Regions from separate parts of the Homo sapiens genome. Here regions 2 and 3 are each linked to region 1. Evidence: fine-mapped expression QTL. A gene starts in region 1. Each other region holds a variant in brackets. All regions are shown on one strand. Distances are from middle to middle.

Evidence for each region. PIP is the estimated chance that this variant, and not a neighbour inherited with it, causes the effect. A credible set is the group of variants that fine-mapping cannot tell apart.
Region 2: its variant is the best candidate, but not a certain one, in a credible set for the expression of RNF111 in whole blood (TOPMed, PIP 0.60).
Region 3: its variant is the best candidate, but not a certain one, in a credible set for the expression of RNF111 in neutrophils (BLUEPRINT, PIP 0.69).

Annotation. Positions count from the first base shown.
Region 1 is chr15:58,985,822-58,990,068 of GRCh38, reverse strand. RNF111 (ring finger protein 111) reads right to left here and starts at 2,406. Exons shown (of 14, transcript NM_017610.8): 1 at 2,001-2,406. RefSeq lists a silencer at 1,523-1,687.
Region 2 is chr15:59,060,804-59,065,050 of GRCh38, reverse strand. All of the region lies in intron 5 of RNF111 (ring finger protein 111), which reads right to left. Among named protein-coding and RNA genes, the nearest start is that of CCNB2, 42 kb to the left of the region's middle. The variant T/C (reference allele first, on the strand shown) is at 2,308.
Region 3 is chr15:59,516,631-59,520,877 of GRCh38, reverse strand. It overlaps FAM81A (family with sequence similarity 81 member A), which reads right to left. Exons shown (of 9, transcript NM_152450.3): 8 at 4,038-4,233. Among named protein-coding and RNA genes, the nearest start is that of FAM81A, 81 kb to the right of the region's middle. The variant G/CAG (reference allele first, on the strand shown) is at 1,935.

The sequences.
Region 1 (4,247 bases):
ATAACGTTACCCATAGAACGGTAATGTCAAGTTATAACATATTTTAACTGCTATCATTTTTCAGATGGTCTCTTTTATTTCCTACTGAAGTCTTGGCCCAAAAGGGGAGAAAAAGTCAAAAGAAGGGCACATAAGTATGCCTCAAGTAAAGCATGATACAGAAACCTCTCTTTAAACTATAACAAAAAAAAAAAGAAGGAAACATCTAAAAATCTAAATGGTTTGATTCAATTAGTTTCCTTTATATTTTTTATTTTAAAGTAAAATAACTAGGAGTATCTGCTAAATGACTGCACCTTAGCTTTATACAAGCAAGGTGCTTTTCTCTTAAACATCACAACAGCTCTCTCTCAATAATCTGTAGAAATGGAGTACCAAAGTGAAATTCGTTAAGATGTAACCTCTGCTGTAATGCATTTTTCACCAAAATGAAGTCACTTTGTTTATACCTTTCTTTAAAAACCAGTTCTATGTCTGGTGAAATAACTAGCAAACAAGTGGCCAACAGACACCAAACAAAAGTTAAGAAGTGACAGAAGGATCTGCACATGATATAGCACCCGTGATAAACAAGGAGACTCATTCTTCCTACTTTTTCCTAAAATATTATTTAGATTTATAAACACCCTCACCAATTCTTAGAATACTGTTGTGAATCTTTGGTCACAAACAAATGAGCAGGAGAGAGATGATAAAGTCATTTGTCCAAGGTTAAATGGCAAGAAAGTGTCCAAAATAAGATAAATCAAGGCTTTAGAAACAATCAATTTAAAATGATTGTAAAAGTAAAAGGGCTTCCTTCTTATCCATCTGTTTCACCTCACAAATATAACCAGACTAGGGTGAAACAATGTGGCTTATACTGACATGAAGATTTTTACAAAAATACATATAGTAATAAACTATCAAAAGATGTATCTTTACTGTAATAAAGCTAAGTCCAGCGTTACAGAAGTTGTGTATGGTAATCTCAAAATCACATTCAAGCATTTACAACCATCACACACACACACAACAAAAATGGGAAAGGAAATGGAACCTTAGCTTATGTTTTTCCCAGTTTGTTCTTTTTAGTTCAAGAGGCCCCTAAAACAAGAAAATTATAGATAAAATACCAAATGAAATAAAGTTTAGATTAAGTCACATTCAAAAGCTACAGGAAATCCTACAAAACGTAGTCTATGTCAGCTGGCATCTTACCATTCAAGAGAATTCTAAATTAATGCCGCACATAAATCAAGAAACAGGAAAGCTTACAACAACACAATGGAGTCACCCCACAACACACACACGAACAAATTAAATGAATACCTCATACTTTCTGGTATTTTTTGAATAATCAAAACTTAGGTTGAGAAATACCCATCTGTAAAGATCTATCTACTATAACCTATTTAAGAACTGTTGTAACAAATCTATTTCTGCTGCACTGAACAGATATTCCCACTATAGCACTGACACTGACTCTGATAAATTATCGAAGGACAATAGTAAAAACATCAGTTTCTTTTTAAATGACCAACAAGCCAACTCCATACAAAATCTGACGCGTCTGTATTTCAGCTGTTCCGCGGACTACGTTTCCTTGATCACAGCAGCAGCAGGCGACTCCCTAGCCGTCAGGGCTGACTTAGCGCCCTCCAACTCCCCGGGTCCGGGTTACCTTCATCACTCCATTGTCAAATCGCACTCCCACGCCTCGGTCCTCAGCCCCCATCCTGAGACTCTAGGGAGAGTCGGAAGTGGGAGAGAAATCCCCTCACCCACACTCCCTCACTGTAGGCTGTGGGTGTGTCGGTAGACGAATGCCTTGCCCAAACACAAATCGTCTGCGGAGACCCAGACCCTAAGTCACCACCGAGCCAGAGATAACCGGCCGGTCACCGACCCCAGCCTTCCGCGGCCGCAGCCCTTCCTCTTTCTCCCCTCCAGGCCGGCCCCTCCCCCGTTGCGCGCACGCGCGGCCTCCAATGGATCCCCTCCCCCCCCGTTCCCCTCACCTTAATCATTAGCCACCCTCTTCTCTTCCAGGGTCCGGGAATCACTGACCCAGGAAGGAAGACAGAAATGTAAGGCGTAAAGAGTAATGCGTCGAGAGCCAGCGATCTGCGCCTCAGACGTCGGCCTAATAGGCCCCTAGAGTCAAGAACAGTGTCTGTCACCGCCACCAAAACTGTACGTGCGGCAGCGCCTGGACTCGGCCCAGCTAAGCCGGCGTGGGTTCAGAATGCCTAATTTGGTCCCACAAGAACTCCTTCTCTGAAGCTGCGGGCGTTTCTACGCTGCGCAAACCGAACACCTCCTCGCCGTCGCCGCCACTGCCGCTGCTCCCCTACAGCCGCCGCCGCCGCTTCGCCGCCGCCGCCGCCTAACCAATTCCTCCCCTACCGAGGAGAGCACGACACTAGGGCTCTTTACGACAGTTCGGAAAGTGAGAGCGCAGTAGCCTTCACGCCTCCATTAACATCTGTTTGTTTCTGCGCTTGCTCGATTCCCGTTTCTCACCGTCCCGCCCCCTCGGTCCCGGCCCTCCCCCTTTGTACTGGTTTTATCAGTCTGTTGGCGAACTGAAAGGTGTCACAAAGCTCATTATTTAATTTTCTTTGGTGATTATGCGTTCAACATTTAAGCCAAATCTTGACTACATCTTGGTTCATTTTTTCGTAACTAAAAATTAACCAACTACAGAATTGATACATTTACAGATATACGTAAACAAAAACATCATGGGTTAGTGTCTTTCACAACAAATGATACCCATATCATATGCGCTAATGACATAAAGATCACGGCACCTCACTGTTAAAGTGAATTTGCTTCCGGAATCAGATCAAAAGTGGTCACATATCTCCTGCGAACTCGGGCTGTACAATCGCATAAGCCTCCTTGTTTATTTTATAAAAGTCAGTAGATAACAAATGCGTCATTATATGCATTAGGAGGATAGAGAGAGGATGAGCTTCAGAGTCCATCAGGCAGACTTCCTTTCAAAGTCCAGTGGTGCCACTTAAGAGTTCTCTGATTGATGAGATCCTTATAAATCTTAGTTTCCTCCTCTATAAATTGGGATAACGTATTTACCTCAAAAGGTTCTTGTTAGATTAAATGAGACAATTTATATAATGCTCTGAACATTACTTGCCAATTAAGTGTTCACTAAACATTAATTCCCTCCCTTTGCCATCAACTCATCTTTTTCAATACTTTTTTTGTTCACTCATATTTTCCGTATCATTCAGTAAGCAAATGATTTTGGCCGGGCACGGTGGCTCACGCCTGTAATCCCAGCACTTTGGGAGGCCTAGGCGGGTGGACTACCTGAGATCAGGAGTTCAAGACCAGCCTGGCCAACATGGTGAAACTCCTTCTCCACTAAAAATACAAAAACTAGCTGGGCGTGGTGGCGGACGCCTGTAATCCCAGCTACTCGGCAGGCTGAGGCAGGAGAATCGCTTGAGCCAGGGTGGCCGAGGTTGCAGTGAGCCATGATCAAGCCATTGCACCCCAGCCCGGGTGACAGGGAGACTCCGTCTCCAAGAAAAAAAAAAAAAAGGCTGGGCGCGGTGGCTCACGCCTGTAATCCCAGCACTTTTGGAGGCCAAGGCGGGCGGATCATGAGGTCAGGAGATGGAGACCATCCTGGCTAACACGGTGAAACGCTGTCTCTACTAAAAATACAAAAAATTAGCCGGGCGTAGTGGCGGGCGCCTGTAACCCCAGCTACTCGGGAGGCTGACACAGGAGAATTGCTAGGACCCGGGAGGCAGAGGTTGTAGTGAGTGCGAGATTGTGCCACTGCACTCCAGCCTGGGCGACAGAGTGAGATTCCGTCTCAAAACAAACAAACAAACAAACAAACAAAACACACACACACACACACACACAAATGATTTTAAAATTACAATAATGATCAAGGATAGCAGATTGTGTGGGAAAACTAAAAGAGCATTCGACTAGGATTTTCCTCAATCCTCCTATTTTCTCACTCTTAAACATAGAATTTTGCCCGGACTATCTTATCTTCTCCCTTGATTTTAACTGTTACTATCTCATGACTTCTCAAACCTGTATTTCCAGCTCTAACCTTTTTTCTGAAGCTTTTGACCTGTGTTCTTCAATTAGGTAGACACCAGCCATATGTGGCTGCTGAGCACTTAAAATGTGGCTAGACTCCCTCCTCTTCTCCCTCTCCCCTCCCCTTTTCCTTTTCCGTCTCCCTAAAAAAATAAATAAATAAAAATAATTGA
Region 2 (4,247 bases), 75 kb before region 1:
TAATCTCTTCTGGGTCAATGTATCAATTAGGAATCTTCTGCTTGTTTACAAATAAAATAAAAATCCAACCAAAACAGCTTAAATAATAAAGGGAATTATGGGTTCACATAAATGAACCTGGGTAGGGGGGTGCTTCAGGCTCTGCTTGGTAAGATTCAGCAAATTTCCCTAAAATTCTCCTGGCTCTGCCCTCTCTTACATGTCTTATCCTGCCTTTCCGGATTCTCATCTCTTCAAGGTCTGTGCTCTAACCTCTGTTACACAGTAGCTCTAATCTAAATTTCTGTATATTCGTTTTTTCCAAGCTGCTAGTCTGGCCTATGGGGGCTAATCTCCCAAACCCTTTTGTAAAGGTTCTTAACCTGGGAACTAGAATTCACGCGTCTGTGAACTTGGACGGAAGAAAAATACAAACTGACACTAACCTCTAACTGCCCCTAGAATTATGTTAAATATTGTAATTTGTAACAAAAAAACAAAGTCGACAAATTATTTCCTTTTTTTTTTTTTTTTTTGCGACAAAGTCTTGCTCTGTCGCCCAGGCTAGAGTGCAGTGGCGCAATCTCCACTTACTGCAAGCTCTGCCTCCCGGGTTCACGCCATTCTCCTGCCTCAGCCTCCCGAGTAGCTGGGACTACAGGCGCCCGCCACCAAGCCCGGCTAATTTTTTTGTATTTTTAGTAGAGACGGGGTTTCACCATGTTAGCCAGGATGGTCTCGATCTCCTGACCTCGTGATCCACCCACCTCGACCTCCCAAAGTGCTGGGATTACAGGCGTGAGGCACCACGCCCGGCCAGATTATTTACTTTTTAGAACAAATAATAGCAGTTCCAAAGTCAGTTCTATAATTATGTTACTTTCATTCACTTGTATTCCAAATGTGTTGAATAACCTGGTCAAGTGTTAAAACTAGCATATCAGGAACTGACCATGATCAAAAGTCTTTTAGGGCTATGCTGAACCCAACATTAAGTAACTGTTTCCTATAAATTATAATATGTATAGTAATTACTCATTATTACAGTAGCTTTACTTGCTACAGCATTTTCAGGGTTTTATCTTAGTCTCTATGTAAAAGTGTTATACAAGTCAATATCATTTATTGTGTATTGCATCAGGAAAAAAAGGTTGAAAACCTTTGGGATACTAAGCTCACTCACTGGGATACGCTAAATTACCTTCATGGTTCCTTCCAACTCTGACACTTTAATTTTACAAACCAAGTTATTTGAGGATTACGTTGACTCTAAAAGTCAGGGTATGAGTTTGTAACCATCACTAAAGTGATGGATATGACATGTATCTGTTCAGAAACAGCTTGTCCTCTTTTGCCTTCGAGCATTTTGAATATATATAGTCCAGAACCTCTTTGTTTCTCAAACAGGCTTGCATCCAAAACTAAAGACAACCAATTAGCCTCTCATTCGAGAGTTACTACCCAAATAAAACTGTCATAAATTAGAGGTGAAATACAGAGATATATGATTCAGTAAATAAAACACTTCCTTTTCTATTAAAATTAACCCATAGAGGGCCCACTAAAAATGAGACAATCATGAACCTGCATTAGGGAAATTAACTCCACAACCCAGGGACAATAATTTGGTTAAAGTGCCTCCTAGGAGTGCCTTCAGTAACTCTAGCAGGATTATCGAGAGGCAGGCATGAATTACTCATTCATTCAACAGTCTTACACATAATAAAGTCGTGGTAAAAGATCTACAAAAGGCACTGGATAATACAAAGGTGAAAATGAAAGTCCTGGCCTTTAACATAACTTACGGTATGGTCTGCTTTTGCTGTTTTTATCTCTAGCAACCAGAAACATGCTTGCACAATGTAGGTGGCTCAATAAGCACTTTCTATATTTAATTTCAACTCACAAGGGAAAAGCAGCATGCAATCATGTAGCTAAGCGCCAAGAAGAGAAACACTTGCTCTTTGGCCCTTAAGGAAGCTCATCATCAAGCATGGAGACAATTTAGGATACAAATCAACCAGTATTAGAACAGAAACACTGGGTTCTAGCATAGCATAAAGCAATGCTGTCCCCAGTATCTGGCAATGCCTGCAGACATTTTTGGTTGTTACAATTGGAAGGGAGGTGATGTTACTGGAATTTAGAGGCTACAAACCAAGGATGCTGCTAAATATCCTGTAAGCACAGCCTTTCCCCACCTCCCACTGTAAGAACTATCTGGCCCAAAGTCAATAGTAGTGCCAAGGTTGAGAAATCTTGGCATAAAGGGGAAAAGTAGAGGTACCACGCCAGACTGCCTAGGTTTGAATTCTTGCTCCACTATCA[T/C]ATAACCTTGGATATGTTACTTCACCTGTAGAATGAGAAGAGTAATAAAATCTGCCTTACTGGTTACTGTAAAAATCAGAGTTATTATAGGCAAATCCACCGGCCAACACTATAGGCTCAATAAATGTTAGCTATTGCTATCCACTAGAGGGTAAGCTCTGTTAGAACAAAAATTTATCTGTTTTGTTCCCACTGCCTAGAACAGTGCCTGACATATAGTGTGCCATCAATAAATATGTGTTAAACAAATGAATATATAAGATATCATGTAGGCATAACACAAGGACCACATGGAGAGGTCAGACAGATAATGAGCTGTTTGTGGCACATTGAGTTTGAACTGACTGCAGAACGGTCCAGGAGAGATGTCCAAGAAGCAATTGGATATGAAAGTCTAAAATGGCCGGGCATGGTGGCTCACACTTGTAATCCCAACACTTTGGAAAGCTGAGGCAAGTGAATTGCCTGAGTCCAGGAGTTCGAGACCAGCCTGGGCAACATGGCAAAACCCTATCTCTACAAAAAATACATAAATTGGCCAGGTGTGGTAGAGTGTGCCTGTAGTCCCAGCTACTTGTGGGGCTGATGCAGGAGGATCACTTAAGCCTGGAAGTGGAGGCTGCAGTGAGCCTGCACTCTAGCCTACGTGACAAAGCAAGACCCTGTCTCGGGGAAAAAAAAAAAAAAAAAAAGAAGTTTAAAACAAATATAGTGGTCAAAAAACACAGAAGAGAGAGTCATCAGCATACTAGTGATAGGTGACAACACTTACAGTTATGAAATGGGCTAGTGAAAGGGGGGATGAGAACACAGTCCTGGGAAGAAAATGAATTATGAAAAGGAGACAATTGTCAGATTTTAAAAGATCATGTTTATTCATTATGAAAGGAGTCAGAAGCCCATTAGAGGAAAGAGTTTAGTGTGACAAAAATACACTTAAATGTACACAGACAAAAACAAGTGTACATGTGCATGTACTAAGGAAATGAAACCAGAGAAGATGCCGAAGACACAAGGAAGATAACAGTTAAAGCAAGGTTAAGGACAAAGGAAAGGATAAGAGGTAGAGCACAGATAAAGGAACTGGAAGGGAAAGGAAGGAGTTAGGAGACTAGGAATTAGTAGAGGAGGACAGGTAGAGAGCCACAAAAGTTTATATGGAGGCATTGGAAGTTGCAGGAGTTCATGCTTAAGAACTTTCATTTATTCATTTTTTTAAAATTTCCCCTGGGGAATGAAAACCTTGAGGAAAAGGAGAGTGTTTTGAAATAGGCACTTAGAGGAACGAAAGGGAACTGATCAAGACAATGGTGATTTCCTACAGAAAGCCCAGGATTCGAAACCATAAATTTACGGAGGAACTTGGATAAGTGTGAAGCTAGATGGCTTGAATGTGAGGGTTGGAAATATTCAAAAAGGTACAAGATAAGGACGGGTTGTGGAGAACATAGTTGAACTAATGTTCCATAGGGTCCTGGAAGGAAATTGACCTTAAGAGAGGCCCATTTAGGACTGTAGCCAAGATGCTCAGAAATTAAATCTGATTTGTGAATGAACAAAGATTTATATATAAAAGTTTTTGGAATATTCTGAAATAAAGTTGGGACTGTATCACATAAAATGTACGTAAGAATAATGCTACACATAGGCCGAGGGTGGTAGTTCACACCTGTAATCCCAGCACTTCTGGAGGCTGAGGCAGGTGGATCGCTCGAGCCCAGGAGACTGAGGCCAGTGTGGGCAACACGGCAACATGGCAAAACCCCATCTCTACTAAAATACAAAAATTAGCCGGACGTGGTGGTCATGCCTGTGGTCCCCCATCTACTCGGGAGGATCACTTGAGCCTGGGAGGTGGAGATTGCAGTGAGACAAGATTGTGCCACTGCACACAGGCCTGGGCAACAGAGTCAGACCTGTCTCACAAAAAAAAAAATAAT
Region 3 (4,247 bases), 530 kb before region 1:
AGATGAAGCAAACAGGCCTGGTACGGTGGCTCATGCCAGTAATCCCAGCACTTTGGGAGGCCAAGGCGGATGGATCACCTGAGGTCAGGAGTTCGAGCCAGCCTGGCCAACACGGCGAAACCCTGTCTCTACTAAAAATACAAAAATTAGCTGGGTATGGTGGCGCACACCTGTAGTCCCAGCTACTCGGGAGGCTGAGGCAGGGAGAATTGCTTGAACCCAGGAAGCGGACGTTGCAGTGAGCTGAGATTGTGCTACTGCACTCCAGCCTCGGCGACAGAGCAAGACTCGTCTCAAAAAAAAAAAAAAAAAAATGAAGCAAACAAATCTAAACTAGGGATAGTCTACAAAATGCTGGCTGGCTGGTATTCTTTAAAAAGGTCAACATCACTGAGAAACTGATCCAGATTAATAGAGACTAAATAAAGAAACATGACAACTAAATACGATGTGTAATTCTGGATTAGAACCTGAAGGGCCAACATCACTAATTATAGGAAAAATACAAATTAAAACCACAATGAGTTATCACCTCACACCTGTTAGGATGGCTATTATCAAAAAGACAAACGAGTACAAGCATTAGCGAGGGTGTGAAGAAAGGGGAACACTTGTACACTGTTGGTGGGAATGCAGGATGGGGCAGCCATAGTGGAAAACAGTATAGGGCAGGGGTATCCAAACTTTCAGCTTCCTTGGGCCACACTGAAAGAATTGTCTTGGGCAATACAAATACACTAACACTAATGATAGCTGATGAGTGATTTAAAAAAAAAAATCACAAAAAAATCTCATAATGTTTTAAGAAAGTTTACGAATTTGGGTTAGGCTGCATTCAAAGCCATCCTGGGTCGCATGTGGCCTGCGGGATGTGGGTTGGACAAGCTTGGTATAGAGGTTACTAAAGAAATTTAAAATAGAACTACCATACGACCCAGCAATCTCACTACTGGGTATATTCCCAAAAGAAATTAAATTACTGCCTCATAAAGATATCTGCACTCCCCTGTTCACTGCACCATTATTTACAATAGCCAAGATATGGAAACAACTGAAGTGTGTCCATCAAAAAATTAGTGAATAAAGAAATTGTGTATATATACAAATGATGAATATTATTCAGCTTTACAAAAAAGGAGAGCCTGCCATTTGTCACAAATGGATAAAAATGGAGGACATTATGCTAAGTGAAATAAGACAGATACAGAAAGAAAAATACTGCACGATCTCATATGTGGAATCTAAAAAAAGAAAAGGAAGGAAGAAGGGAAGGGGAGGGGAGGGGAAGGGAAAGGAAGGGAAGGGAAGGGAAGGGAAAGGAAAGAAAGGAAGAAAGAAAAGAAAGAGAAAGAAAGGAAAGAAAGAGAGAAAGAGAGAAGGAGGGAGGAAGGAAGGAAGGAAGGAAAGGAGGGAGGGAGGGAGGGAGGAAGGCAGGCCGAGGCGGGTGGATTACTTGAGGTCAGTAGTTTGAGACCAGCCTGGCCAACACCATGAAACTCCATCTCTACTAAAAATACAAAAATTAGCTGGGCCTGGTGGTGCACATCTACAATCCCAGCTACCCGCGGGGCTGAGGTATGAGAATCACTTGAACTTGCGAAGAATAGGTCGCAGTCAGCCGAGACTGCACCACTGCACTCCAGCCTGGGCGACAGAGCAAGACTCTGTCTAAAAAAAAAAAGAAAAGAAAGAAAGTCAAAAACATAGAGAATAAAATGGTGGTTGCCAAAGGTGGGGCGGAAGAGGAGGAAATGGGGAGATGCAGGTCAAAAGATACAAATTGCTGATATGGAGAATGAACAAGACCAGATGTCTAATGTATAGCATGAGGACTGCAGTCAATAATATTGTATTGTATTTGGGATTTTTGCTAAAAGAGTACATTTTCAGGTGTTCTTGCCACACACACACACACACACACACACACACACACA[G/CAG]ACACACACACACAAATACCTGTGAGATGATACATATGTTAACCTGCTTGAATACAGTAACTATTTCACTATGTATATATATATCAAAATATAAACATCTTGTTGTATACCTTAAATATACACAACAATTTTTTTTATTTAAAAAACATGTAATTAGAAAAAAAAAGACACTAGACTGGAAAAGGGTTGCTATAAAGGAAATAATGGCACGTTGAAAATTGAATATTAAAAAATATTTCATTGATGATACATTGTATTAAAGTTATTTATAAGAGAATATCCTTGTTCTTAGGATATATACACTGAAATAATAAAAGGGCAACCAGGCAGCGGCTCACACCTGTAATTCCAGAGCTTTGGCAGGTCAAGGCAAGAGGACTGCTTGAGGCCAGGAGTTCCAGACCAGTCTGGGCAACATACTGAGGACCCATCTCTAAAAAAATTTTTTAAATAAAAAAATGAGCTGGGCATGGTGGCACATGCCCATAGTCCTAGCTGCTCAGGAGGTCGAGGCAGGGGGCTCACCTGAGCCCAGGAGGCTGTAGTGAGCTACGATCACACCACTTCACCCCGGCCTAGGCAACAGAGTGAGCCTCTGTCTCATTCTGTCATTTTTTTTAATTTCCAAAAAAATGGAAATAATAAAGGGGTAAAAAGGCATCATGAGGCTAGGCCTGGTGGCTCTTGCCTGTAATCCCAGCACTTCAGCAGGCCGAGGCGGGAGGATCATTTGAGGTTGGGGGTTCAAGACTAGCCTGGCCAACATGGTGAAACCTTGTTTCTATTAAAAAAAAAAAAAAAAAATTAGCCGGCCGTGATGTCAGGCGCCTGTAATCCCAGCTACTCAGGAGGCTGAGGCAGGAGAATCGCTTGTACCCTGAAGGCAGAGGTTGCAGTGAGCCAAGATCACGCCACTGCACTCCAGGCTGGCAACAGAGCAAGATTCTGTCTCCAAAACAAAAAAAAAAAAGGAAGAAAGAAGAAATATATTGTCTTTGTAATAAAGAAAATGGCTTTATTTTTTAAAAGGCTCAGATGCTTTTCATATTAGGTGCTAAATATTAACATCCTCAATGGTATGTTAAATAACAATACATTCCTTCAGGGAATGATGCGAGGTTAAACATTGATGAAATATTCAAATACCATATTTTAATAGTCCAAAGACTAAGAAAGAAAATTCATTTTTATCTTTACAAGTTCTCCAATTCATATATTTAATTGTAGCTCCTATAAATAAAATAATAAACATTTGGTGGTAATAACAAAATTATTCTAGGGATAACTAGCACTTTTATTTCCATGTGGCCAAAACAGAACAATTTCATAGAAGAAAATTCATGGAATCATACAACTGGAAGAAGCTAGGAGAGAATTTAGTTCCACTTCTCACACTACAGGAACGTCTTCTTCCTGACCACAATCAACCAGCCTCTACTTGAATATTTTCTGTAACAAAGAGCTCTCAAGCTCCGAAAGCCATCAGTCTTTTAGGACTCATTAACTTCAAGGTACTTCTGCCTCATATTGAGTTAAAATCTGTCTTCGGGTACCTTCCACTTAGTGGTCACAGTTCTGTATTCCTGAGTTCAGAGCGTAAATCTAATCCCTCCCATATATGACAGCACTCAGAACTTGAAATCAGTGCTAATGTTCTCCTCTAAGCAAGTGTGAATTAATGCGCCCTGCTGACCTGCCAGTAGAGGAAAATCATTCTTTGCCAGGGTGGTACTGTACTGCTAGCACTATAAAATAAGCCCTCAAAACCCCCTCAAAGATATGTGCTTCCTTCTGAGACATGTTAACCTTGGCTATGAACAGAAAAGAATTGGCCGATGGTGCTGAAGAAAATGTACCTCAGTTGCAGGCTAAGCAATTTCAGTTCTGTTTGCCTGTCTCTCACGGTGGCTCTTTATATAGCTGAAATTCAAACAGCATTGTAGCTACTTAGAAAATACAGCACAGCTACTCAGAAAATCAACTAAGGATATTTCACGGTTATTACCATTAGCCAGGTTCATAGGTAGTTGCAGGGGATACTAATTAATAGGTTTTAGAACAAACAGAAAATAAAGCACGTGAGCTGTTCTGGTTTTGGCCTACCAGCATTAACTTCTGCTTTCATTTCCTTGATGTTCTGGTTCATCTGTAACTCCAGCTTGGTGATTCGCCCGTGCATCTTCTCCTCTTCTTGCCTTGTTCTCTGACCATCAAAAGTCTTCTTTTGACCCTCTTCTATTTTGTCAAGCCTGGCTGACATCTGGCTGAGCTTCTTCTCCATATCCCTTTCACTGGCTCCCTGAGATCCATGAT